Homo sapiens: one gene and its partners. The protein of the gene in region 1 interacts with the protein of each later gene in a biochemical or structural test. Each region holds a gene or a part of one and is shown in the gene's direction. Other genes may lie near its edges. The genes, in order: SMARCA4, STAT2, CDK19, NR4A2, DPF2, CDX2 and CBX5.

Region 1 (3,500 bases):
GAGACGTTTTGTGGTGAAACACTGGAAATCCAGTTATTCGCCAGTGGCCCACAGGCCCGTGTGGAGAGTGCGGAGCCAGGGATCTGGGGATGCTGGCAGGTGCTGATCCTGCTCCTGCTCTCAGAAGCAGGTGTTCCTTGGTGTCCCCACTCTACCCCTGAGGTCACCCCGCTGACCCTGTTCTCCTCTGTGCCCGTCAGGAACCACGAAGGCGGAGGACCGGGGCATGCTGCTGAAAACCTTCAACGAGCCCGGCTCTGAGTACTTCATCTTCCTGCTCAGCACCCGGGCTGGGGGGCTCGGCCTGAACCTCCAGTCGGCAGACACTGTGATCATTTTTGACAGCGACTGGAATCCTCACCAGGTAAAAGCGGGCCGGGCCCCAGGTCGAGGAGAAGGAAGGGGGTGCCTGCAAAACCTCGAGGAGACGGCCCTGGCTTGAGGGTCCTCCAGCCTCCTCCACATTGTCTTGGACCCCAGGAGCCGGGAGGAGCTGCACCCATATCTCCATAGGTCATCAGGGAGAAAAGAGGCGGGGTCCTCCTGTTTCCCAAAATACAAACAGCCTTTCCCTCTGATTGGGAAAGCAGTGTATAAGCCATCCGTCGGTTTGGTTTTTCTTAAATCTTGGAATGGCACCCATGAGGAGGTGGAAAGTATCCTGATCAATCTGCGCCGTCACTGTGGGGCGGCCCCTGCAGTGTGCCCTGTGAGCACACACACTGGCGCTTGTTCAGACACAATTGGGGGTAAACTCCATGCCACTTCGTTTACTTCCTCCTCTTGTTCCATAACCATGTACCCCTCATGGGCCTCGGCATCGGTGGATACCAGGTCATGCTGTTACATAGCTACAAGAATTTGAAAATGAGTTAAACTTTTCTCTGTGTTTCATTATAAGACTGATAAGTTCTTATTGTTTTTAACATGTAAACACCAGTGACAGTCAGGAGTCCCTTTTCCCTTCCTCTCCAACCGTGCTCTCTTCTGAGCCTCTGCCAGCCCATCTGCCTTCGCACATGTATGTACTGAGATTAACACAGATGCGGCGTGGCCTAGCATGTGCCTCTTCCACCAAGCAGTGGGTGTCAACCGCCGAGTGCACATCGGAAGCTACCCAGCCATCTAATCGGCCACCAGGCGTCCCGGCAGATGGCCACCCCTGGACGTCTGCTCTCAAACTCTGGTTGGCAGGCATCCGTCTTTTCTGTTGATCAGCCTGGTCACCAACCCAGCAGGGTCCCTCTTTCTCTCAGAGTGCTTGTGCAAACACCCTAGGTCTGCGCAGCCCTCAGACATGGGGTCGCTCCACCCCAGACATTGTCCTCTTCGTGTTCTGGTTGCTACTGCCAAAGTGGTTTCACTCCTACGCTGGGGTGTGAATGTACCCTGCCCTTCCCTGCAGCGTGAGGGCAGCAGCGTTCTCAGTGTGTAAATTGTCGCTTGTCTGATGGGTGAATGCCGTGGTGGTCACTGGTGGCCCCTTTTACGATCAGGCTGGGGTGTAGCTTCTGCCCAGACCCTGGTGACCAGCCAGTTTCTTAGGAGGTGGTTGAGTTGTGTGTCCCCGTTGGCAGGCCGGCAGCAGGCGGAAGCTGCACCTCAGGGCTGGGGGCGCGTTGGGGAGGGCTGGCCCTGCCAGGAAGTGTGCTGACAGGGCAGGAGGGCTGAGCGGCAGACACAAGGCACTCCTGGTCCCCACCAGCTGTGGCCTCTGCCACCCCATGGGTGCCAGTCTTAAGTTTCAGAGCATCACTGGTACTCACCCTGGTCCTGCAGCTCCTGGGCCCAGAGACAGGATTTCGTGTTAGCCTCCTCGTACTGTGCTGGGGTGATGATAAAACTAACAACCCAGGCTGGACGCAGTGGCTCACACCCGAAATCCCAACATTTTGGGAGGCCGAGGTGGGTGGATCAACTGAGGTCAGGAGTTCGAGACCAGCCTGGCCAACATGGCGAAACCCTGTCTCTACTAAAAATACAAAAATTAGCCAGGCATGGTGGTGCATGCCTGTAGCCCCAGCTACTCAGGAAGCTGAGGCAGAAAAATCGCTTGAACTTCGGGAGGCAGAGGTTGCAGTGAGCTGAGATCGCACCACTGCACTCCAGCCTGGGCGACAGAGCGAGACTTTGTCTCAAAAAAAAAAAAAAAGAAAAAAAGCCCATCCACGGCACCTGCATTGTTGGGAGCTAACTGCACCAGTCACTGGGCCACACTCCTGGTGCTTATTCACTCATTCGAGGTATGCAGTAGCCACGGGTTGGGCCCCATGTAGGCTGAGGGAGTTTTGAGGCTCACAGAGGTGAGACCTGGTTCCGGTTCTGTGTGCACTGTGAGAGTGGCAGGGCCCACAGCCAAACCAAGCACTGCCACAACACGGCCGAGCTTCGGCCCCCTGTTGTAAATGGTGCTCGACTGTGTAGGTCCACGCTGTGGGGAGCTGTGCCGCTGCCACGGGAGCTGCTTGAGAATATAATCCCCTGGGGGGTTGGTGCTTTCTTCCCGAATATCTGTGGGGTCCCAATAAGGTAGAAGGTGGCACTTCTGGAGGAACGTGATGAGAGTCCCCTTCCCCCGAGGGACACATGGCGGCCCAGGCTCCACCAGCTCTGTTTTCATGCGGCGGCAGGTCAGGCTGGGCAGAATTGTCAGGCCGAGGGTGGCACGCACAGCACACCTCTCCAGCTAGTGTCAGAGGCCACCTTCCCTTTTATGACCTCCTGGGCTCCTTTGGGACTGACTGGCACCTCTTCCCCCAGGACCTGCAAGCGCAGGACCGAGCCCACCGCATCGGGCAGCAGAACGAGGTGCGTGTGCTCCGCCTCTGCACCGTCAACAGCGTGGAGGAGAAGATCCTAGCTGCAGCCAAGTACAAGCTCAACGTGGACCAGAAGGTGATCCAGGCCGGCATGTTCGACCAGAAGTCCTCCAGCCATGAGCGGCGCGCCTTCCTGCAGGCCATCCTGGAGCACGAGGAGCAGGATGAGGTGAGCCCAGCACCGGCCCCGACCCCTCCCCAGCGTGAATGGTGGACGCGTGAGCGGCTTTCATTTTTGTTTTTTTACCTTTTTTGCACTCTTATTTTTTTTGCATCCCTTTGGAGTAAAGGGAGTGTGGGCTGAACGGAAAGAGGATGAGTACTTGCTTTTTCTTTGAAGTGGTTTTTTTTTCTAAACTGCTGGTGAAAGACGCCGGATTGACAGCCCTGGAGACTGAAGTCCTCTATTTATCCACAGAGCAGACACTGCAGCACGGGCAGCGGCAGTGCCAGCTTCGCCCACACTGCCCCTCCGCCAGCGGGCGTCAACCCCGACTTGGAGGAGCCACCTCTAAAGGTGAGAGGGGTAGTTCAGTCTCCATGCCCATTCAATCCTCGGCTTCTCGGCTGAGACGGCCAGCAAGGGCCCTGGTCCCACGGAGCGTGCGTGTGCGTGTGCGTGTGTGTGCCTTTCGCTGCCGTGTGGGTCCCCATCCACCGCAGCCGTGCCGGGACCACCAG
Region 2 (3,500 bases), on another chromosome or scaffold:
GGTTATTTTCAATTTCTTGTTACCTTTTTCCAGGAAACGCTATATTTTATGGTAATTATATTGTGTTGTAGAAAAATCACTAGTGTGTCCTCCAACATACTTGAAAAATACCTACTGTTTTCAATATTTTCTCATTTAAAAATTTATTATAATTTAGTCTTTTAGAAATATACCAGGCCAGGCATGGCGTCTCATGCCTGTTATCCTAGTACTTTGGAAGGCTGAGGCAGGAGGATCACTTCAGTCTTGGGGTTTGAGACCAGCCCGGGAAACATAACAAGACCCCATCTCTACAAAAAAAAAAAATTTGTTTTTTAATTAGGCATGTCCGGACACAGTGGCTCACACATGTGGCCAGCACTGTGGGAGGCCAAGGTGGGTGGATCACTTGAGGTCAGGAGTTCAAGACCAGCCTGGCCAATGTGGTGAAACCCCATCTCTACTAAAAATACAAAAATTTGCCAGGTGTGGTGGCGCATGCCTGTATTCCCAGCTACTCAGGAGGCTAAGGCAGGAAAATCACTTGAACTCGGGAGGCAGAGGTTGCAGTGAGCTGTGATCATGCCACTGTACTCCAGCCTGGGTGACAGAGCGAGACTCCGTCTCAAAAAAAAAAAAAAAAGATTAGGCATGGTGGCACACGCCTGTAGTCCCTAGCTACTCAGGAGGCTGAGGTGGGAGGATTGCTTGAGCCCAGGTGTTGGAGGCTGCAGTGAGCCATGATTATACCACTGTAGTCCAGCCTGGACAACAGAACGAGACCCTGTCTCTAAAAGTATATATGTACACATACCATAATACCCAGCTACTGAGGAGGCTGAGGCAGAAAGAGTGCTTGAGTCCAGGAGTTTGATGTCAGCCTGAGCAATATAGCAAGACCCTCACCTCTTAAAAAAAAAAAAAGTAGATTAAAAAAATACCACAATTGCTCAGGTAGATTGAAAAACAGGCATATAGTACTTATGGTACAGGACCAGCATGCATGCATGCATGCATTGATTGATTGATTGATTGATTGATTGAGACAGGGTCTCTCTCTGTCTCCCAGGCTGGAGTGCCTGGCCTTAAGTGATCTGCCCACCTTTGCTTCCCAAAGTGCTGAGATTACAGGTGTGAGCCACCATGTCAGCTGGCGAGGCTTTTTAAAAGATAGTTCCAAGTGTTACAGCTCTTTTAGGATTTGTCTAGCAGGCTTTCAGGTTTTTGCCAGAAACCACCCCCACCCCCACCCCCACCAAAAAAAAAAAAAAAAAAAAAAGATAGTTACAAATGTTTCCCAGAATAGTTGTCCCAATCGAATCTATTTTCTCATGTGTAGTGTATGGTTGTTTTCCTGTCACCACATTGCTGATTATTATTATTTTTAATTATAGAGACAGTAAAGTACAGTAGTTAAAAATGTGAGTTGGGGCTGGGTGCAGTGGCTCACACCTGTAATCCCAGCACTTTGGGAGGCCAAGGTGGGCGGATCACCTGAGGTCAGGAGTTCAAGACCAGCTTGGCCAACATGGCAAAACCCCGTCTCTACTAAAAATATATATATATAAGTTAGCCGGGCGTGGTGGCACATACCTGTAATCCCAGCTACTCGGGAGGCCAAGGCAGGAGAATCTCTTGAATCCAGGAGGTGGAGGTTGCAGTGAGCCAAGATCACACCATTGCACTCCAGCCTGGATGACAAGAGAGTGAGACTGTCTAAAAAAAAAAAACAAAGTGTGAGTTGTACAATGAGACTGCCTGGGATCACATACAAGCTTCATCCCTTACTAGTTGTATGACCTTAAGCAAGTCACTTAACCTTTCTGTGCCTCAGTTTTATCATCTGTAATGTGGGGAAAATAATAGTACCTGCCTCAGAGGGTTGTTTTGAGGATTAAATGCATTAATATGTGGAAAGGGCTTAATATAAGTTGTACATAGCATATGAAAACTGTTATGTTAAATCTATTAGCAGTTTTATATGTGAAAATAGCTTTGATTTTCATTTCTTGGATTATGAATCATGTTGAATAATCCTTTATATGCTTCCTGGATTCTTTTTTTTTCTTCCCCCCAGTCAGTTTCTGACTCTTCACATATTTACAGAGAGATCTTGGAACCTGGATGGGGGAATCCAGGAAACTCATGGATTCCTTCTTCCTGAATTTTATCACCCAGGTTCACAGCTGGAGCAAAGCTGTTGTTTCACCTGAGGCAGCTGCTGAAGGAGCTGAAGGGACTGAGTTGCCTGGTTAGCTATCAGGATGACCCTCTGACCAAAGGGGTGGACCTACGCAACGCCCAGGTCACAGAGTTGCTACAGCGTCTGCTCCACAGGTCTAGAGGCCAGGCAGGAACCCTGGGGGAAAGAAGGAACAAGGGAAGCCATTCTTACAGATACTGAGCTATATATTCTCTCCACACCTCTCTCTCCTCAGAGCCTTTGTGGTAGAAACCCAGCCCTGCATGCCCCAAACTCCCCATCGACCCCTCATCCTCAAGACTGGCAGCAAGTTCACCGTCCGAACAAGGTTGGCATTCCAGAACTCATTCCCACTTCCTTTTTCCAACCCTGCCACTGTGTATTTTCTGGCTTTACAGCTCTTCCCACTCTTGGCTTTTTCTTCTCTTTCCCTGCAATCTCCCTACCTCTTATAATCCCTCTTCTCTTTTTCAAACATCTAGTCTATCCGGAAGGTTGAGGTTGACCACTTTCCCCTATCCCCCTTCCTTCCCCCAGGCTGCTGGTGAGACTCCAGGAAGGCAATGAGTCACTGACTGTGGAAGTCTCCATTGACAGGTAAATTGGAGCAGGTGAAGGGTGGCCAGGACACGGGCTGCTGGGGTGGAGGAGATACTCACTCTTCACAACAGGGCCCTAGGGCTATCTCCTTCCTCCTTCCAATCCTACCTCACAGAAATTATAATTCATTTCTTTTGTTGAACACTTACTTTGTGACATGCAGCATGTCAGCTACTCATTTAATTGTCACACCAACCCCATGAATAAACTATTACCAGTGCACTGTACAAACAAAGATACAGGCTTAGAGAGACTGATTACATCTCTTCTCAAGGCCACATAGCTAGTGAGCTCAAGTCGGGTTTGAACCGAGGTCTGTCTGATCCCAAAGACGAAACTCCTAACTTCCATACTCTTTTGCCCAATGATTTTTTTAAATTTATTTCTTTTCAGGAATCCTCCTCAATTACAAGGGTAGGTGCTTGACAAGGACACTGCAAACATCTGTACAGTGTATGACCTGCAGAACCACATTCGGCAGCCCTGGTGGCACAAACAAGGAAGAGGGGGATTTGGGATATGGACAAAGGGAGATGGCGAGATCTGAAATGAAGTGGAACTTCTGTTTTTTTTTTTCTGCTGAGTTTTTAGAATAATTCCATTCCTTGTCTCCATGTATCTTCCTCCTGGAACAGCTTCCGGAAGTTCAACATTCTGACTTCAAACCAGAAAACTTTGACCCCCGAGAAGGGGCAGAGTCAGGGTTTGATTTGGGACT
Region 3 (3,500 bases), on another chromosome or scaffold:
CTCCCAAAGTGCCGGGATTACAAGTGTGAGCCACCACGCCTGGCCCCATTTCTTTGAACAGATATTAGATATTGCTAAGGAAAATAGGCATATTTTTGAGAAATAAATATTTTCTCTTAGGCCAGCTCTTTTAGAATTGCTAGACTAGTAATCTGTCTTCTGTGCTTTTACTAGCTATTTTATAGAGATGCTTAGAAAATACCAGTATTTAAATACATTTTAGGACAAATTTTGGTTTTATGGGTTTATGGTAAAAAATTAAGTATCTTTAACACTTAGTAAATGAAGTAGACATCTGTTTATGTTTAACTGGTTTGTCATTTTTGTAATGCAAGCCTTCAAAAACTTTTTGAGGCCTAAGGGAAATTAATGTGTTCTTTTTCAATGAAATTTGATAATCTAGAGCAGTGATCAGCAAACTTTTTCTGGCAGATACTAAATATTTTAGGCCTTTTGGGCTTTACTGTCTCTGGTGCAATTACTCAACTCTATTGTAGTGCCAAAGCATCGACAGATAATACGTAAACCAGTATGGATAAGGATGGCTGTGTTCCAGTAGACCTTTATTTATACAAATAAGCAGTTGGCTGAATTTAGTCTGCAGGCTATAGTTTGTTGACTCCTGGTGTAGAGCAGTGATGTCCAATAGAACTTTCTGCAGTGATCTGAAAATGTTTAGCATCTGTGCTGTCCAATATGCTAGCCACAAGCCACACGCCACACATAGGTATCGATTACTGGAATGTAGTTAGTGTGATTAGAAACTAATTAGTAGCTATCACATTGGACTGTGTAGGTTTAGAGTCTTTGGATGAGTGGCTTAGCAACAAATAATTCTCTGATCCATCAAGTGACCTTTCAATAAAAATGTTTAAATCAGGGTGTGGATAAATAGGAAAACTGTTATGTCTTTTTTCAAGTTACAGGAGAAATATTAAGGCTGAAATAGCTTGATAAAGCAAACCAATACTTGAAGAACTATCAATTTATGAATGGAATCAAGGATATTTAACTACTTTTTCAAAAAAGTATTTTATGGCCGGATGAGGTGGGAGGATTGCTTGAGCCCAGGAGTTTGAGGCTATAGTGAGCTATGATGATGCCATTGCACTTCAGCATGGGCAGCAGAACGAGACTCTCTTAAAAAAAAAAAAAGGTATTATAAAAAAAAGTTTGTAAATAGTATATGTGCGTAAAAATATACAATGTGGCTGGGCGCGGTGGCTTATGCCTATAATCCCAGCTCTTTGGGGAGGCCGAGGTGGGCAGATCACTTGAGGCAAGGAGATCAAGGCCAGCCTTGCCAACAGCGAAAACTCCGTCTCTACTAAAAATACAAAAAATTAGCCGGGCGTGGTAGTACACACCTGTAATCCCAGCTACTCGGGAGGCTAAGGCACAATAATTGCTTGAACCTGGGAGGTGGAAGCTGCAGTGAGCTAATATTGCACCACTGCACTCCAGCCTGGGTGACAGAGTGAGACTCTGTTTCAATAAAACAAAAATAACAAAAAACCACCAGTGTAACGTAAGTCATCCCTTTCCCAGCCATTCTTTCCCTTTTTTAGGGGCAGTCATTCTTGGTTGTCCTTTAAGAGGATTTTCTTTTGGGGTATGTGCATGTGTGTTAACTTAAAGATGTCATTAAATATGACATGCTAGTGTGCTGCACACTTTTCTATTTTTAGATCATGGCTCACTGCAGCTTTGGCTGCCTGGGCTCAAGCAAGTCTGTCTCTTGGGCTCAAGCGATTGTTTCACCTCAGCCTCCTGAGTAACTGGGACTACAGATGTGGGCCATGCCCAGCTTTTTTTTTTTTTTTTAAATTATTTGTAGAGATGAGGTCTTGCTATGTCTCTCAGTCTGGTCTTGAACTCCTGGCCTCAAGTAATCCTCCTACCTTGACCTCCCAAAGTGCTGGGGTTACAGGCATAAGCCATCATGCTTGGCCCTATTTTTATTTTTATTTTTATTTATTTAATTTATTTATTGAGACGGAGTCTTTCTCTGTCACCCAGGCTGGAGTGCAGTGGGAAGATCTTGGCTCACTGCAACCACCACCTCCCAGGTTCAAGCAATTTTCCTGCCTCAGCCTCCTGAGTAGCGGGGACCACAGGCATATACCACTATACCTGGCTAATTTTTTGTATTTTTAGTAGAGACAGTGTTCACCATGTTGGCCAGGCTGGTCTCGAACTCCTGACCTCAAGTGATCCATCTGCCTCAGCCTCCCAAAGTGCTGGGATTACAGGCGTGAGCCACAGTGCTTGGCCCATATTTTAAATCTTAAACATTGCTTAAACATTATGACATATCTATATACAGAGATGCCTTGTTTCTCTTAATAGTTTTGTTGTATCTCATTGTATTGACTTACATCATTGGCTGTCTCCAGTCTTGCTAGTACTAACACTGAAGTGAATATCCTAGTAAGCACAGCATTTTGTACCTATTAATGTGTCTGTAAGTTAAAGTCCTAGAAGCTGTTTACCTTTGGAAGTAATGGCTTGGAATGGTTTACTAATATGGTGATGTATAAGATAGAAATATCTGAAGACTGGAGATGGGGGGGTTGGCTAAGAATAAGGAAGTGAAATGTTAAGACAATAATAATTTTTTTTTTTTTTTGAGATGGAGTTTCGCTCTTCTTGCCCAGGCTGTTGTGTGATGGCACGATCTTGGCTCACCGCAACCTCTGCCTCCCGGGTTTAAGCGATTCTCCTGCCTCAGCCTCCCAAGTAGCTGGGATTACAGGAATGCGCCACCATGCCTAGCTAATTTTGTATTTTTTAGTAGAAACGGGGTTTCATCATGTTGGCCGGGCTGGTCTCAAACTCTTGACCTCAGGTGATCTGCCCACCTCGGCCTCCCAAAGTGCTGGGATTACAAGCGTCAGCCACTGCACCCAGCTGACAGTGATAATTAACACATAAAAATGAGCTATAAATCATTTGTTAAAGGAAGTACAAGTTACTTACTTTTTTTTTTTTTTTTTGAGAAGTGTTATCCAGGCTGGGGTGCAGTGGCACGATCTTGGCTCACTGTACCTCTGCCTCCTGGGCTTAAGCTACTTTCTCATGGCTACTGTTTTAGGAGCATGGAAAAGGCATGTCTCTGAGTTTTACATAGGAAGAGTAGATCCATGGAAAGGTTTTTAATGCAATCTATGTCAGTGTTGATGAATTAAGTATTTTTATTTTTTAAAGTATATAAAATATAGTGTCCTACATTTTTGAACTTAATATGCTAGACAAATAAGTTCATATGTGGTGTTATAAATTGTGTACAGTTGACTGTTGAACAGCAGGAGTTTGAACTGTGTGGGTCCACTTACACGCAGATTTGTGAAACCTGCGTATATGAGGGCCAACTTTTTGTATAGGTGGGTTCTCCAGGGCCAACTGCAGGACCTGAGTATATGTGGGTTTTGGTATATGCAGGGGTCCCAGAACCAACCCTTTAGGTATACTGAGGGACATCTATTTGTTTTGAAAAATTA
Region 4 (2,892 bases), on another chromosome or scaffold:
TACGTGGCCACTACGCACATGATCGAGCAGAGGAAAACGCCAGTCTCCCGCCTCTCCCTCTTCTCCTTTAAGCAATCGCCCCCTGGCACCCCGGTGTCTAGTTGCCAGATGCGCTTCGACGGGCCCCTGCACGTCCCCATGAACCCGGAGCCCGCCGGCAGCCACCACGTGGTGGACGGGCAGACCTTCGCTGTGCCCAACCCCATTCGCAAGCCCGCGTCCATGGGCTTCCCGGGCCTGCAGATCGGCCACGCGTCTCAGCTGCTCGACACGCAGGTGCCCTCACCGCCGTCGCGGGGCTCCCCCTCCAACGAGGGGCTGTGCGCTGTGTGTGGGGACAACGCGGCCTGCCAACACTACGGCGTGCGCACCTGTGAGGGCTGCAAAGGCTTCTTTAAGGTGAGCAATGGCGGGAGCGGAGTAGGCAGGTAGGGAGCCCCTAGTGCCCGGGACCTCGGAGTGTGCCCTCTGCCTTGGTGCCAGTAGCCCAGCCCCAGCTCTCCCGGGACTGCCCAGCTCTCCGGGGTCCGCCGAAGCTGCCCTGCAGGAGACCATGGGCTGCGGCGGGGACTTCCGGGTGTCTGAGAAAGGGAAGCAGAAAGACTGGGAGGCCAGGGTCGCATCCCCCTCGCATTCAGCCGACCCGGCTGGCCCCCGCCCGAAGTTGCTGGAGCCGGAGTTGGAAGAGGGTCATTTGCATGTGCTAGGAGCTGTCTTCCCTGTTCAGAATGAAATTGGTTAGGACAGAGAACCGTGTCTGAGCTAACCAAGTGGAACAGAATTCCCTATGGTCAAATTAAGTGATCTCTTTATTTCGCCATCCTGATTGAATAATCTTATCATTTTAAATAGAGAAGGTCTCCAAGGAATGTAAATAATATGAATGCCCACGGATTTGTATTTACTGAGCGTCTCCTTCTCCTTCTCTTGGCATATAAAACACAGCAAGGAGCGGCAAGGTTAGCTCAAATGTTAACGCTATCAATTTTCTTCTGTTAAATGCCCTGGGGGAGGAAAAAAGAAAAGAAAGAAAGAAAAGGAAGAGAAAAAAATAAAATGGAATTGTGTGTATGTGTTTGTTTGTGGGGAGGAATCGTAGACCCCAGTCACATAACAGAAATTTTCTCCGAGTTGCCTGATTTTCAAAAGAAGAAAAAAAATGTTGGTCTATATTGTCTCCTTTTGCAGCGCACAGTGCAAAAAAATGCAAAATACGTGTGTTTAGCAAATAAAAACTGCCCAGTGGACAAGCGTCGCCGGAATCGCTGTCAGTACTGCCGATTTCAGAAGTGCCTGGCTGTTGGGATGGTCAAAGAAGGTAGGCTGAGGGGAGCTGCCGACCCTCCAGTTTGCGCCTTTAGGAAACCACTGCTCATACTCCAGCATCACGTTCCACTTCCCGGTGCTGGGGATCTCCGACTCCCCCTCAGTATGGCCTCCAGGACCCTGCAGCTGCCTGCTTGCCCGGCCTTCCCTAGAGAAAGCCGCCAGGCCCTTCTCTCCTTTAACTATACGACCCATTTGGAGGAAGACATAAAATAACCCCGCATTTTTTAATGCTTCTAGTCAGTGAAGGCTTTACAAGCACTGGGGCCCTCAGCCGCTCAGCCTGGTGCCCCGCGGCTGCGGCCTTCCCCGGGGAGGGACCGAGGCAGCAGCTGGGCCTGGGCTCGGAAAAGCGGCGCTAACAGGGCTCTTCCTTTGCAGTGGTTCGCACAGACAGTTTAAAAGGCCGGAGAGGTCGTTTGCCCTCGAAACCGAAGAGCCCACAGGAGCCCTCTCCCCCTTCGCCCCCGGTGAGTCTGATCAGTGCCCTCGTCAGGGCCCATGTCGACTCCAACCCGGCTATGACCAGCCTGGACTATTCCAGGGTAAGAAGCTGGCGGGGGGGATATCATGTGGACAAACCGACAGATGGGCAGGACCCCTCCCCACATCCGTCATTAACTCTCAGATTCAACGGGGGTAAAGAAGGCAAGCAAGGCTGTATATGCCTCGCAGCTCTGGCCAGGGCCTCAAGATTCAGATCTTCAGACAATCCATGTAGCTGGGGGCATAGACATGAGGACAGGATGGAGGAAGGAGGAGAGGGACACGCCACAGGGTTTGAAGCTGTGTGAATTCCCACTACCCCACTACCCCATCGCCCCTCCTCTTCCATATACACCAGTGCCTCTACCATGAAATCCAGGGGCTGTGCAAACTCTCCCCCTTCCCAATCTACTTTATTCCCAGTCCTCCATAGAGATAGATGCTTTAATCCTCATCCTTCCTGGCACTGTGCTGGGGAAGGATGTGGGGGCCTGTCTGGGGGTCAGGGAAGGGAAGGAGAGGGTGTAAAGAATGCCAGTGGGGTGGGGGATCAAGTGGTCAGATCCTTTTTACTCCAGCTGTGAAAAATATGCGGGCTTTAATTGGAGGAAGTATGTTGAGCAAACCTGGTAGGGACTGCAATTTTATTAAGATTTGCAAAAGGGCGTCTCAGCTCGAGGCCCACTCTGGGACTAGCATGAATACTAACATGTCAATTGTTTTGTGGAGATAAGAGTGAACGTTTCCCAGGGCTGGATGGCACTGTATTTAGTCTGTATGGAAATGGCAATTTACATATTTAAAGCAGCGACCTCGTAGCACCATCCCTAATTGAATTAATTGCCCCGGAACATCTAATTTCCTTACTGGTCAGAGAGAGGTTTAATTGTTATAAAAACCTGGCTCCCCTATTAGAAACGGGGTTAGCAATTTCACGGGTTATATATTTTAGAGAACCTCATTAAGTGCTTTTTAAAATGAAATTCCAGTTCCAGGCGAACCCTGACTATCAAATGAGTGGAGATGACACCCAGCATATCCAGCAATTCTATGATCTCCTGACTGGCTCCATGGAGATCA
Region 5 (3,500 bases), on another chromosome or scaffold:
TGCTGCCTGCATCTTGGGACAGGGTGGCCTAGGGAATTCCTTATTTTATTTCAAGTGAGATTAGCGGCCACTTCCAAAAGAGTCTAACTCCTCAGGCCCAGCTACCAAAATAAGGGTGTCTCTTTGCTCTTCTTGGCAGGGTAAGGGTGTGGGCAGTGCCCGTAAGAAGCTGGATGCTTCCATCCTGGAGGACCGGGATAAGCCCTATGCCTGTGACAGTGAGTGCCTCACAAGTGGGTGGGTAGACCTTGCCTTGGACCCAGCTCCTGCTCTGGATATGAGAGGAGGGAGGGTTGTGTTTTTGCCCAGAGTATTAAAACAAACCTGGGCTCTTGTCCTGCCTGCTGACTGCTTCCGTCTGAGACCCCTGGGAGGCCTGGGTCCCTGCTATATGACGGGTGGGACCTGCATGCTCTGGGAAAGATTTCTGCCATCCTCTGGGGTAGGGTTGCTTGTGGGGGCCACAGCAGGCAGGGTTGGCCTCTCAACAGATGGCCTGCAGGTCTCCTGGCCTCAGTTAAGCCAGGGCCCCAGGGGTCTGACACTGAGTTTTTCAACGTCTGTTCTCTTTTTCTTTCTGTCTGCCTTGCCCCACTTCTGTCCCTCCACCCTGGGAGCACCATCGCCGCTGGGGTTTCTCTCTCGTTTGCTCTGCTTTCCTGCTGCTGCTGCTCCTGTCTCAAGTGTATCAAGGCCTTCTTCTCATGACTTTTCTTTCTGTCTTTCAGATAGTTTCAAACAAAAGCATACCTCGAAAGCGCCCCAGAGAGGTAGCTCTCTCAACTTTTCAGACTTGTGGTTTTCCTTTCCCTTTTTCCCTCTTCCCTTGTTCCTCCTGCCTTTCTCATTTCCTGGGATGCTAGCTTTAAAATCTCTGGAATGGCATGGGGGTAGGAGCAGTGGAATTTCTGCTGTGCTCTACTCCTCAAAGTCCTGAAGGCTGCCTTTACCACTGCTTGTTTCCCACAAACCTGCTCCTAGAGCTGCTCGGCCCAGTGCATGGGGTGGCTTCAGAAGCATTATCAGGAGCCCATTACAATCAGACCCTTCCGCTCCCTCCCCAGACCAGGCAGCTGGTGGTCAGCTCATGTTCCCCACTGCCCCACCACCTCCTCCTGCCATCCTCTCTCCCCACTCCTTTCCTGCTGGCCCCCTTGCCCTTCTTGGTATTACTTCTCAAGATGACAAAATGCCTCATGGGGATCTGCTTTCCTTGCTGATTGGCAGGCCTGGACAGGGCAATTACATGGGAGTGTGCTTGAATTTCTTTGGGGACCAACTGCCCAACTGGCTTCATTGATAGGCTATCCCCAAGAAACCCATCCCCTGCTTGTTTACCCACATTCAGGGGAGATGGGCTCCATGGTGTGTGGGGTAGCATGAGCCTCCCACATTTACTGAGGGGTAAAAAAGTTTGGAGTCTTATCCACTTTTCCCCCTTCCTGCCACCCCAAAGATATAGGAATATCCTTCCCTTTCCTGACCTGGAGCGTCCCAGACTGTTAGTATATCCCAGAGCAACTAACTGGTGATGGGGCAAGGGCTAAGCCCCCCAAAAGTCAACATGGAAGAGCAGTGGTGGCCATGGGGTTGGAGTTCAGGAGGGAAAAGAGCCCCAGAAGCTAGAGAGCCCCACGGCCTGATGCTCCTGGCTGAGGGGAAGTGGCCGTCACTCAAGGCCTGTCCCAGAGTGGAGCTGCTAGGGGAAGGGATGGTTGCCCTCTGCCTCAGGTGGAGCCCCCACAGCTTGCAGGGATGGGGACATGGCACTCTTGTATCCTAACACCTTTCTCTGCAATCTTCTTCCCACTCAGTTTGTGGAAAACGTTACAAGAACCGACCAGGCCTCAGTTACCACTATGCCCACTCCCACTTGGCTGAGGAGGAGGGCGAGGACAAGGAAGACTCTCAACCACCCACTCCTGTTTCCCAGAGGTCTGAGGAGCAGAAATGTAAGCTGAGGTGTCAGAAGTGGTGGGCAAGCAGAAGTTGGCCTGGTTATGAAAACCACTCCTTGCATGGGTGTTGAGTGGCTCAGGGACCCCCATGGGTGTCATCAAAACTCTTTCTCTCTGTAGCCAAAAAGGGTCCTGATGGATTGGCCTTGCCCAACAACTACTGTGACTTCTGCCTGGGGGACTCAAAGATTAACAAGAAGACGGGACAACCCGAGGAGCTGGTGTCCTGTTCTGACTGTGGCCGCTCAGGTACTGCTTCCCGTGAAGGCTGCTGCTTTGCCCAGTCCCCAAGGGGCTCTTGGCTTGCTGGCCTCTAGGGCTGTCATAACCAGCCCACCTCGCTTTTCCTAACCAAGAGAAGATGTAGCCACAGGCAGGAGCTCCTCTCTTCCCCCCGCATTTCCGACTGTCTGTCTCACTCACTTCCCCCACTACAGGGCATCCATCTTGCCTCCAATTTACCCCCGTGATGATGGCGGCAGTGAAGACATACCGCTGGCAGTGCATCGAGTGCAAATGTTGCAATATCTGCGGCACCTCCGAGAATGACGTGTGTATCCCCGCCCCCTCCTCAGCATGGCTCCTTCTGGGCTTTTACTGCTGTTTGCACAGTTCCCTCTAAAGTGAGCTTTCTTTTAAAAAGGGAGCAGGATCCCTCCCACATGCCACACGCCCCTCCCTAGCATCTCAGTCAGAACTCTGATTTGTTGCCAGATATATATTGAGTGCTGATTTTATGTCAGACACTGTTCTAGTCACTAAAGATGCTAAAGACAAACAAGGTCCCTGCCTCATGAGATTTACATTCTTACAGGAACAACAATAAGCAAGGATGTAAATGAGATTTGTATAATGTGCCATGAAAAAAACGAAATCAGTACTGTGGCAGAGAATAATTGCATAAGTGATTTATTTTGATGGTCAGGTATGGCTCTTCTGGGAGGGTGATGCTGGTGTTGAAATTTTGGTGATACCAAGGAGCCAGTCAAGATTTGGAGGTAGAGGAATCCCAGGAAAGGAGCAGCCAGCGCCAAGGCCTTATGTTGGACAAGCCAGATGACAGGGCATGGGAGAGTATGGTGGGCAATGAGATGAGAGAGGCAAGCACTGCCAGATCTCTGGGGCCTCGGGTTTTATTCTAGGTACAACAGGACACTGTTGAAGGGTTTTACTCGGGAAGTGACATGGTTATTTATGTATTTATTTATTTACTTTTTTTTTTTGAGATGGAGTCTTGCTCTGTCGCCCAGGCTGGAGTACAGTGGCACAATCTCAGCTCACTGCAACCTCTGCCTCCTGGGTTCAAGTGATTCTCCTGCCTCAGCCTCCCAAGTAGCTGGGATTACAGACACGTGCCACCACACCCGGCTAATTTTGTATTTTTAGTAGAGATGGGGTTTCTCCATGTTTGCCAGGCTGGTATCGAACTCCTGACCTCCGGTGATCCGCCTGCCTCAGCCTCCCAAAGTGCTGGGATTATAGGCGTGAGCCACTGCACCCAGCTATTTATTTATTCTTTATGTATTTATTTATTTATTTTGA
Region 6 (4,291 bases), on another chromosome or scaffold:
CTCAAGGGAGATAAAGGACACTGGAGAGCACCCTAGAAATGACAGGATGAAGGCGATGGTGACAAATATCCGAGCGAAACGCTTGACAATGAGAACAGACAAGTGCAGGTCTCCAGGAGTGCCGCGAGCGCCCGCGGGTTCTGAGAGCGCTCAAAGCCGCCGAGTCAGGCTGCCCAGCCCGCCGGGCCTCGCCGCAGTGATCCTCATTCCCGAATCTGGCAGCGCTGTCAAAGGCTTGTATTAGGAGGTGAACGGCGGCCGCAGGCCCACTCCACGCGGTTGCTGAAACCGAGCTGGGCGCGCGCGGGGGCCGAATCTCGCCGCCTCCGCGCTCCTGTCGGGGCAGCTCCCGATCCCGGGCTGCGCGGCTTCGGTCCCCAAGACGGCCACTTCCAGCCCTAGGCCCCTTGGCCGCAGCGCTTCCCAAACCAAGAGAGATCCTTTCTCAACTCAGAGCTTTTCATTAGCAGTCGTTAATAATGGCCCTGAGTTGCCTTATCATCTCCTGGAAATGAGAAATAAATTTCTTCGGAGAACGTTTCCCTTTGTAAAGGACAGAGAGTTTTAAAGATACAGGTATGATGTAAGACACATAAATACCTAGGTAAGCATTAGCAGAAATTCTCTTTTCCTTATATTTAAGTATAATAAACATACAAGTGTAGCTCAATGAATTTTCACAAACTGACATTCTGTGTAACCAGCAGCCTAAGAAACTGCTTTACCAACGATCCCCTAGCTCGCCTCCAGTTATGCACGCCAATAACCACTAGCCTAACTTCTACCACATGCCCATTACTTCTGTAGTTTAAAACTTCTGATTCTTGAATGTAAACGTTTAACAATAAATCGCTTGAATTTAACTCAAATTTCAAATGTAAGATGAAGTCAGAGATGCAGCCTGAATCTAGGATCATAATTTGTCTTGTGCGGAGGGCGAGTAATTTCCTTGGGCAAGAAAATAACTGGAGGTGACAGTTGTTTGGGGCTGCAGTCGTCCGGGCCAGGAGCACAGGGCGGGAAGGAATGGCCCATCTCTTAGGGCTCTCTGCTTGTCACCTACCAGGTTGGTCAGAAACGTTCTCATCAAAGCAATGGTTCTCTTTTCTTTTCTCTTTGGGACAGAAGGAGTTTCTTGACCGCCCTCTTCCCTGCAAATGCATAAACAACCACTGCTCCTGTCTCCAAGCTCAGATTCCTACCAAGATAGCCTTTTCTCTTCCCCTCTCTTTTGTAAGTCTCTTGATTTCATTCTTTGAACCTGTGATTGGAGGTTAAAGTGCACCAGGTTGGAAGGAGGAAGCTCTTAACAATAAAGGTTTGAATATTTAGCTGTGTCAGGTCGCTGCCCTCTCACGAGCCTCCCTCCCCTTTATCTTTTAAAATGCAAATTATGTTTCGAGGGGTTGTGCGTAGAGTGCGCGCTGCGCCTCGACGTCTCCAACCATTGGTGTCTGTGTCATTACTAATAGAGTCTTGTAAACACTCGTTAATCACGGAAGGCCGCCGGCCTGGGGCTCCGCACGCCAGCCTGTGGCGGGTCTTCCCCGCCTCTGCAGCCTAGTGGGAAGGAGGTGGGAGGAAAGAAGGAAGAAAGGGAGGGAGGGAGGAGGCAGGCCAGAGGGAGGGACCGCCTCGGAGGCAGAAGAGCCGCGAGGAGCCAGCGGAGCACCGCGGGCTGGGGCGCAGCCACCCGCCGCTCCTCGAGTCCCCTCGCCCCTTTCCCTTCGTGCCCCCCGGCAGCCTCCAGCGTCGGTCCCCAGGCAGCATGGTGAGGTCTGCTCCCGGACCCTCGCCACCATGTACGTGAGCTACCTCCTGGACAAGGACGTGAGCATGTACCCTAGCTCCGTGCGCCACTCTGGCGGCCTCAACCTGGCGCCGCAGAACTTCGTCAGCCCCCCGCAGTACCCGGACTACGGCGGTTACCACGTGGCGGCCGCAGCTGCAGCGGCAGCGAACTTGGACAGCGCGCAGTCCCCGGGGCCATCCTGGCCGGCAGCGTATGGCGCCCCACTCCGGGAGGACTGGAATGGCTACGCGCCCGGAGGCGCCGCGGCCGCCGCCAACGCCGTGGCTCACGGCCTCAACGGTGGCTCCCCGGCCGCAGCCATGGGCTACAGCAGCCCCGCAGACTACCATCCGCACCACCACCCGCATCACCACCCGCACCACCCGGCCGCCGCGCCTTCCTGCGCTTCTGGGCTGCTGCAAACGCTCAACCCCGGCCCTCCTGGGCCCGCCGCCACCGCTGCCGCCGAGCAGCTGTCTCCCGGCGGCCAGCGGCGGAACCTGTGCGAGTGGATGCGGAAGCCGGCGCAGCAGTCCCTCGGCAGCCAAGGTAAGCAGAGGCTGCGCCCCTTCGGAGGGTGCTTGGGAAGGCGCGGGTCGAGCCAGTGGCTGCTGCGCGTCGCGCGTCCAGTGCGCACAGGGGCGTCCCGGGCTGTCTGGGAGCTCGGCGCCAGGAGGGGCACGGCCCGGAGACAAATTCGGGGGCCTCTGGCCCGTCGGGGCTTCTCTGACCTACTGAGCCTGGGAGTGAATATTCTGAGTCTCAACACCGTGTTCAGGCGTCCTCTTTCCAAGAGCTCCTCATTCGCAACCCCGGGACACCTTCGGGAAGCTCCGGGGAATGTCGGCGTGAGCACTGCTGGACGCCGGCAGAATCGCGTCCTCCGGCACTTGCTGCGGCATGCATTCCTTGCGTGGCTCCTGGCCGCCGAGGAGAGAGGGAGGCTCGAACCTTCTTGGGCTAGGTCTAGGCCATTTATCTCCGCTCTCTCTTTCCCCATCTGAGCCATCTAAGAAGAGAAGTGACCTGGGGGGGTCGGAGGATGGCTAGGCTGTGTGTGGGACCGGGTTTGGCCACTCGGGCCAATTCAAGGTACAGCGAGCAGGCAGACCAGGGAGAGCTGCTGTCGCTGGGAAGAAGGTGCTAGCCCCAGCTGCTAAGGCGACGGGGGCGCGCCCCGTCTCTGAACCTCTGACCTGTGAAGGGGTCATTTCAAGCAAAAGCTGGAAGGCTAGGGGCAAGAAGCCTAGGGGCAGGCGTCTGCGGAGAGAGCAGGGAGACGGGGAGGAAACCCTGGTGGGAATTAAGCCGCCGCTCCAGGTAGGGGTCATTTCTCCCAAAGCTTCCTTTCAAGGGTGTCAGGGATGTCTGTGAGTGTGTGTGTGCAACTGAAAAAGATCCTAGGTTTGCCGGACTGTGGGGCTCATTGACTCTGGGTCTGCCCCTTCTGGTGTTCGAGTGTGCCTAGAGGTGGCAAGGAAGTGCGGTGGGGAGAGTCCTAGTTGAGTGCCCCTTTTAAAGTCTTTCCCCAGCCCTCAGCGCTTCCGCTTTTCTTGCTTCGCTCCTTGATGCCCCAATTGGGCAGGCACGCTGGTTATGGGCACTTTGCAGAAGTTTATAGCCAATTACAACTGTATAAATCAAAGCGCCCTTTGGGGGCTGTCTCTGGGCATCGGTTTCTGCGTCACTGTGCACATGCTAGGGAGAGTCCTGGTGGGAATGCCGCCGACCGGGGAGAAGGCCACAGATCAGCCTCGGGTGAGCCTCAGAGCTTTGGCTTGGTCCCTTCTCCTAGAGGAGGCGCCTTTCTCCTAGCAGGGGCTCCCAGATCCTGGCTCCCAAAGACCCACTTTCTACAGCCCCTGTCTGGGGCGCGGTTGGCGGGGGTGGCGCACGCCCTAAGGAAGACCTTTGCGTGTCCCGGGAGAGCGGCCGCGGGGTGAGGGCCGGGAAGGGGGCGGGAGGGAAGCCGCCAGAGCCCAGGCCGCGGGGTCAGCAGATGAGAGGCCGCTGTGAAGTCCTGCGCCGAGGTGGCAAGGCCGCAGTCGGCGCCGGGTGCCCTTGTGATGTTAATGTGGGGTGGCCGCAGCCCGCGGGCCGGAGCCGGGCTCCTCTGCGGAGCGTCATCTGTCAAGGTGTGGGGGTGGAGGGGGGGACGCGGCCTGGCTTGCTTTGATATACACCTTCCCAGCCCTGCCATTGTCTCTTTTAGGGCCCGGAAAGAGGGTGGTGACTTTCGCAGTCAATAATGAATTCTGACAAGTCCCTCTCATCCCTCCCCTCCATAGCCCCGCTCCTAGGTTCCCAGGGGGTGTGGGGCGCCTCCAAGGCCCTTGGGGCATGGGTCGAAGAGCGCTCAGGGTCTGGTCATCGCGTTGCCCGGCACGTCCGGGACACTGAAGGGGCAGCACCCGAGCAAGGGTCGCTCCGAGACACTTCCAGGCGAGTCTCCCTCCCGGGGTGTTCGGCTGAGGGAACTGCCCTGCGCCTCAGCTCCGG
Region 7 (3,500 bases), on another chromosome or scaffold:
AGGCAGAGTTTGCAGTGAGCCGAGATGATGCCACTGCACCCCAGTCTGGGCGACAGAGTGAGACCTTGTCTCAGAAAAAAAAAGTTTTTACCACTTTTTGCTGCTTAAACTTACACATACGATTGATTGCATCTTGTCCTTGTTTGGCTTCCTAAAATAATGGCAAATATGTTTTTGAAGAAGGTAGACTTTGCCTCACATCCTTCTTTTTCACTTGATTCTAGCTAGCCTCTTTCTTTTCCTGGGATTCTTTTGGATCCACGTCTCAAAACTTTTTTGACCGCAATAAGAAATATATTTTACACTAATCCTGTACACACATTGAAACATTTCACTAAACGTGCAGAGTACTCTGATATTCTTTTGTCTGCAGTATACTATTTCATTGTCTTAAGAAAGCAGTCAATTTCCATTGAACTGATTTCACAGCTGTTTATAGACCCAGGGTTTTGGGGGAAAAAGACTGCTGATCTGAAGAATAGGTCACCAAATCATGCCAACTTTGATTGCTTTCTGAGTCAGTTCCTTCCATCTCCAGCCCCAGCCACTTGTACAGATGGTCCCTTGCTTGTGATATTTCGACTTAAGATTTTTCACCTTTACAACGGTGTGGAAAGCAATTTGCATTCAGTAGAAACCATATTTCAAGTATCCACATAACCATTCTGTTTTTCACTTTCGGTACAGTAATCAACCAATTACATGAGATATTCAACACTTTATTATAAAACAGGCTTTGTGTTAGGTGATTTTGTCCAACAGTAGGCTAATGTAAGTATTCTGAACACATTTAAGGTAGGCTAGGCTAAGCTATGATGTTCAGTAGATTAGGTGTAGGAAATGAATTTTCAATTTTTCATATTTTCAACCTATGATGGGTTTATCAGGACATAACCCCATCAAGGAGTATCTATGTAAACAGATTAAGCAGTGACCCATTATTTGGTGTTTTTACTCATGTGTTTTACTTTGAAAGATTATAGGAGCCAAACCGAGACTTTCTAGTTTACTGTCGTGTGCAAGTGAAAACTGCTTGTTTTATTGTGAAGTCTCACAATGCTTAAAGAGGGAAAACAATAAAAATATTGCAAAATGTCTCCCAATGTGATAGGTTTTTTTTTTTTTTTTTTTTGGAATGGAGTCTCGCTCTTGTTGCCCAGTCTGGAGTGCGGTGGCACGATCTTGACTCACCTCAACCTCCGCCTCCCAGGTTCAAGCAATTCTCCTGCTCCAGCCTCCTGAGTAGCTGGGATTACAGGCATACGTCCGGCTAATTTTTAGTAGAGACGGGGTTTCTCCATGTTGGTTAGGCTGGCCTCAAACTCCTGACCTTAGGTGATCTGCCTGCCTTGGCCTCCCAAAGTGCTGGGATTACAGGTGTGAGCCACTGTGCCCAGCCTCCAATGTGGTAGTTAATAGATATGATGAACTTTTCTCTCTGGTGGTGAAATTTTAGTGGGTAATTTTTCATTGAAATTCTGGTACTATCACAGAGTTAGAAATCCTAACTTCCAATGTGATACGTGTTGGGCCTCTAATTACAGAAGTTATAACGCTTGTGCTTAGAACTTAGAGACATACTGCCTGGGCGCAGTGGCTTATGCCTGTAATCCCAGCACTTTGGGAGGCCGAGGCGGGCAGATCATGAGTTCAGGAGATTGAGACCATCCTGGCTAACACGGTGAAACCCCATCTCCGCTAAAAATACAAAAAATTAGCCGGGCGTGGTGGCACACGCCTGTAGCCCCAGCTACTCTGGAGGCTGAGGCAGGAGAATTGCTGAGCCTGGGAGGCGGAGGTTACAGTGAGCCGAGATTGCACCACTGTACTCCAGCCTGGGTGACAGAGCGAGACTGTCTCAAAAAAGAAAAAAAAACTTAGAGACATACCTACTATTGCAACCAAATCTAAAAGGGGTGTTTACTAAAGGGGAATATATTCTGTCTGAAAACTAGTAAGTGGAAAGCTTCAATTTGGGTAGTAGGTGAGCAGGATGATAGTTGGGGAAAGAAAGAGTGAGCCTACATTTGAAGCGGCTGGATTTGTATATGGCTAGGGAAATTCTGGAGATTCTCAGAGCCCTTAACAATACTCTAGAAAAGAGAAAGGTTTGGTATCAGGGTACAAAGATTTTTGAGGAAGACTAAGTCGCTTTTTGTTTCTATTGAGATTTGTTTGTTTTTGAGACAGAGTCGCGCTCTGTCACCCAGGCTAGAGTGCAGTGGCGTGATCTCGGCTCACTGCAACCTCTGCCTCCCGGATTCAAGCGATCCTCCTGCCTCAGCCTCCCGAGTAGCTGGGACTACAGGCACGTGCCACCATGCCTGGCTAATTTTTTTGTATTTTTAGTAGAGACAGGATTTCACCGTGTTAGCCAGGATGGTCTCAATCTACTGACCTCATGATCCAACCGCCTCGGCCTCCCAAAGTGTTAGAATTACAGGCATGAGCCACTGTGCCCGGCTCTATTGAGGTCTTTAACCACATAGCATGATTTCCATATCTTATTGGTATAGCCCATTTAATTAATAACTGTCCTGGTAAAGCATTTCTAGTCTTTATTTTGTCCTTTTACTTAGATTATTTTTATTTCCATTCATCTTACATGAAACTGGGCCTAAAGCTGTGTTATGGATATTGATTTTAAAAGTAATAAATTACAACATGAGATACCACTTGACTTAGTATGGCTGTTTACATATCTGCTATTCGTGAACTCGGACTCTGGGCAATCATCTTTTTCTCCTGATATAAACTTTTATTTTTCTTCCTTGCTTATAGAGAATGATTTTAACTGATCATTGTACTAATAGGAAGGAGTCCAGGTCATCCTGAGAAGAGTTCGCTTGTCCAGAGTCCAAGATGCAGATTTGTTGGATTTCTGTAAGCCACTCGAAGCCACATATTCATTTCTGATGACAGCTTTACACTTGTGCTGGAAGAACACCCACTGTGACAACTGCTGCCTATGTTTAGTCTGTCCAGGAGCTCTACCAACTAGCATGTTTGCAGAAAAACCTACACTGTTCTTGTTAGCAGCTATGTAAATATTAGATCTTTCTGAGTTTCTCTTCTCAGATCTGCCAATTTCTTTGGGGCAAATTGTATCCTGCAGTAGCCTCAATTTACCCTTTGAAATGAGGGATTAAAGGTTTTAGACATTCTTTGGGTTATCTGAAACACAATTCTTTTTGGATCAGTAATGTTTTATATATGTCCACTTTATGATGTTTAAAATTTTATTCCCCCTATGTATTAGTTTCCTGTGGCTGCTATAACAAATTACCACAGACTTGGTGGTTTAAAACAAGAGGAATTTATTCTTCTCAAAATTTTGGAGCCCAGAAGTCTGCAATCAAGATATTGAGGCCCCTCTGGAGGCTCTAGGAGAGAGACTGTTCTTTGCCTCTTTTAGCTTCTGATTATGGTCAGCATTCCTTGGCATATCTCTCTGTTCTGTTTTCACATTGTCTTCTCTTTTGAGTACTTGCATCAGAACT

Evidence for each region.
Region 2: the proteins of SMARCA4 (region 1) and STAT2 form a complex in vitro, tested with the Homo sapiens proteins (one study listed by BioGRID).
Region 3: the proteins of SMARCA4 (region 1) and CDK19 form a complex in vitro, tested with the Homo sapiens proteins (one study listed by BioGRID).
Region 4: the proteins of SMARCA4 (region 1) and NR4A2 form a complex in vitro, tested with the Homo sapiens proteins (one study listed by BioGRID).
Region 5: the proteins of SMARCA4 (region 1) and DPF2 form a complex in vitro, tested with the Homo sapiens proteins (one study listed by BioGRID).
Region 6: the proteins of SMARCA4 (region 1) and CDX2 form a complex in vitro, tested with the Homo sapiens proteins (one study listed by BioGRID).
Region 7: the proteins of SMARCA4 (region 1) and CBX5 form a complex in vitro, tested with the Homo sapiens proteins (2 studies listed by BioGRID).

Annotation. Positions count from the first base shown.
Region 1 is NC_000019.10:11,030,530-11,034,029, forward strand, and holds part of SMARCA4 (SWI/SNF-related matrix-associated actin-dependent regulator of chromatin subfamily A member 4), read left to right. Parts: intron 1-200; coding exon 201-364; intron 365-2,760; coding exon 2,761-2,988; intron 2,989-3,237; coding exon 3,238-3,336; intron 3,337-3,500. UniProt on the Homo sapiens protein: ATPase involved in transcriptional activation and repression of select genes by chromatin remodeling (alteration of DNA-nucleosome topology).
Region 2 is NC_000012.12:56,350,108-56,353,607, reverse strand, and holds part of STAT2 (signal transducer and activator of transcription 2), read left to right. Parts: intron 1-2,157; coding exon 2,158-2,316; intron 2,317-2,417; coding exon 2,418-2,510; intron 2,511-2,719; coding exon 2,720-2,779; intron 2,780-3,175; coding exon 3,176-3,196; intron 3,197-3,417; coding exon 3,418-3,500. UniProt on the Homo sapiens protein: Signal transducer and activator of transcription that mediates signaling by type I interferons (IFN-alpha and IFN-beta).
Region 3 is NC_000006.12:110,805,470-110,808,969, reverse strand, and holds part of CDK19 (cyclin-dependent kinase 19), read left to right. Parts: intron 1-3,500.
Region 4 is NC_000002.12:156,326,830-156,329,721, reverse strand, and holds part of NR4A2 (nuclear receptor subfamily 4 group A member 2), read left to right. Parts: coding exon 1-399; intron 400-1,188; coding exon 1,189-1,318; intron 1,319-1,707; coding exon 1,708-1,871; intron 1,872-2,801; coding exon 2,802-2,892. UniProt on the Homo sapiens protein: Transcriptional regulator which is important for the differentiation and maintenance of meso-diencephalic dopaminergic (mdDA) neurons during development.
Region 5 is NC_000011.10:65,343,852-65,347,351, forward strand, and holds part of DPF2 (zinc finger protein ubi-d4), read left to right. Parts: intron 1-139; coding exon 140-218; intron 219-728; coding exon of another isoform or gene 729-770; intron 771-1,814; coding exon 1,815-1,952; intron 1,953-2,078; coding exon 2,079-2,207; intron 2,208-2,395; coding exon 2,396-2,508; intron 2,509-3,500. UniProt on the Homo sapiens protein: Plays an active role in transcriptional regulation by binding modified histones H3 and H4. Is a negative regulator of myeloid differentiation of hematopoietic progenitor cells. Might also have a role in the development and maturation of lymphoid cells.
Region 6 is NC_000013.11:27,966,516-27,970,806, reverse strand, and holds the start of CDX2 (homeobox protein CDX-2), read left to right. Parts: upstream 1-1,491; 5' UTR 1,492-1,800; coding exon 1,801-2,341; intron 2,342-2,513; exon of another isoform or gene 2,514-3,360; coding exon of another isoform or gene 3,361-3,550; intron 3,551-4,291.
Region 7 is NC_000012.12:54,273,623-54,277,122, reverse strand, and holds part of CBX5 (chromobox protein homolog 5), read left to right. Parts: intron 1-3,500. UniProt on the Homo sapiens protein: Component of heterochromatin that recognizes and binds histone H3 tails methylated at 'Lys-9' (H3K9me), leading to epigenetic repression. In contrast, it is excluded from chromatin when 'Tyr-41' of histone H3 is phosphorylated (H3Y41ph).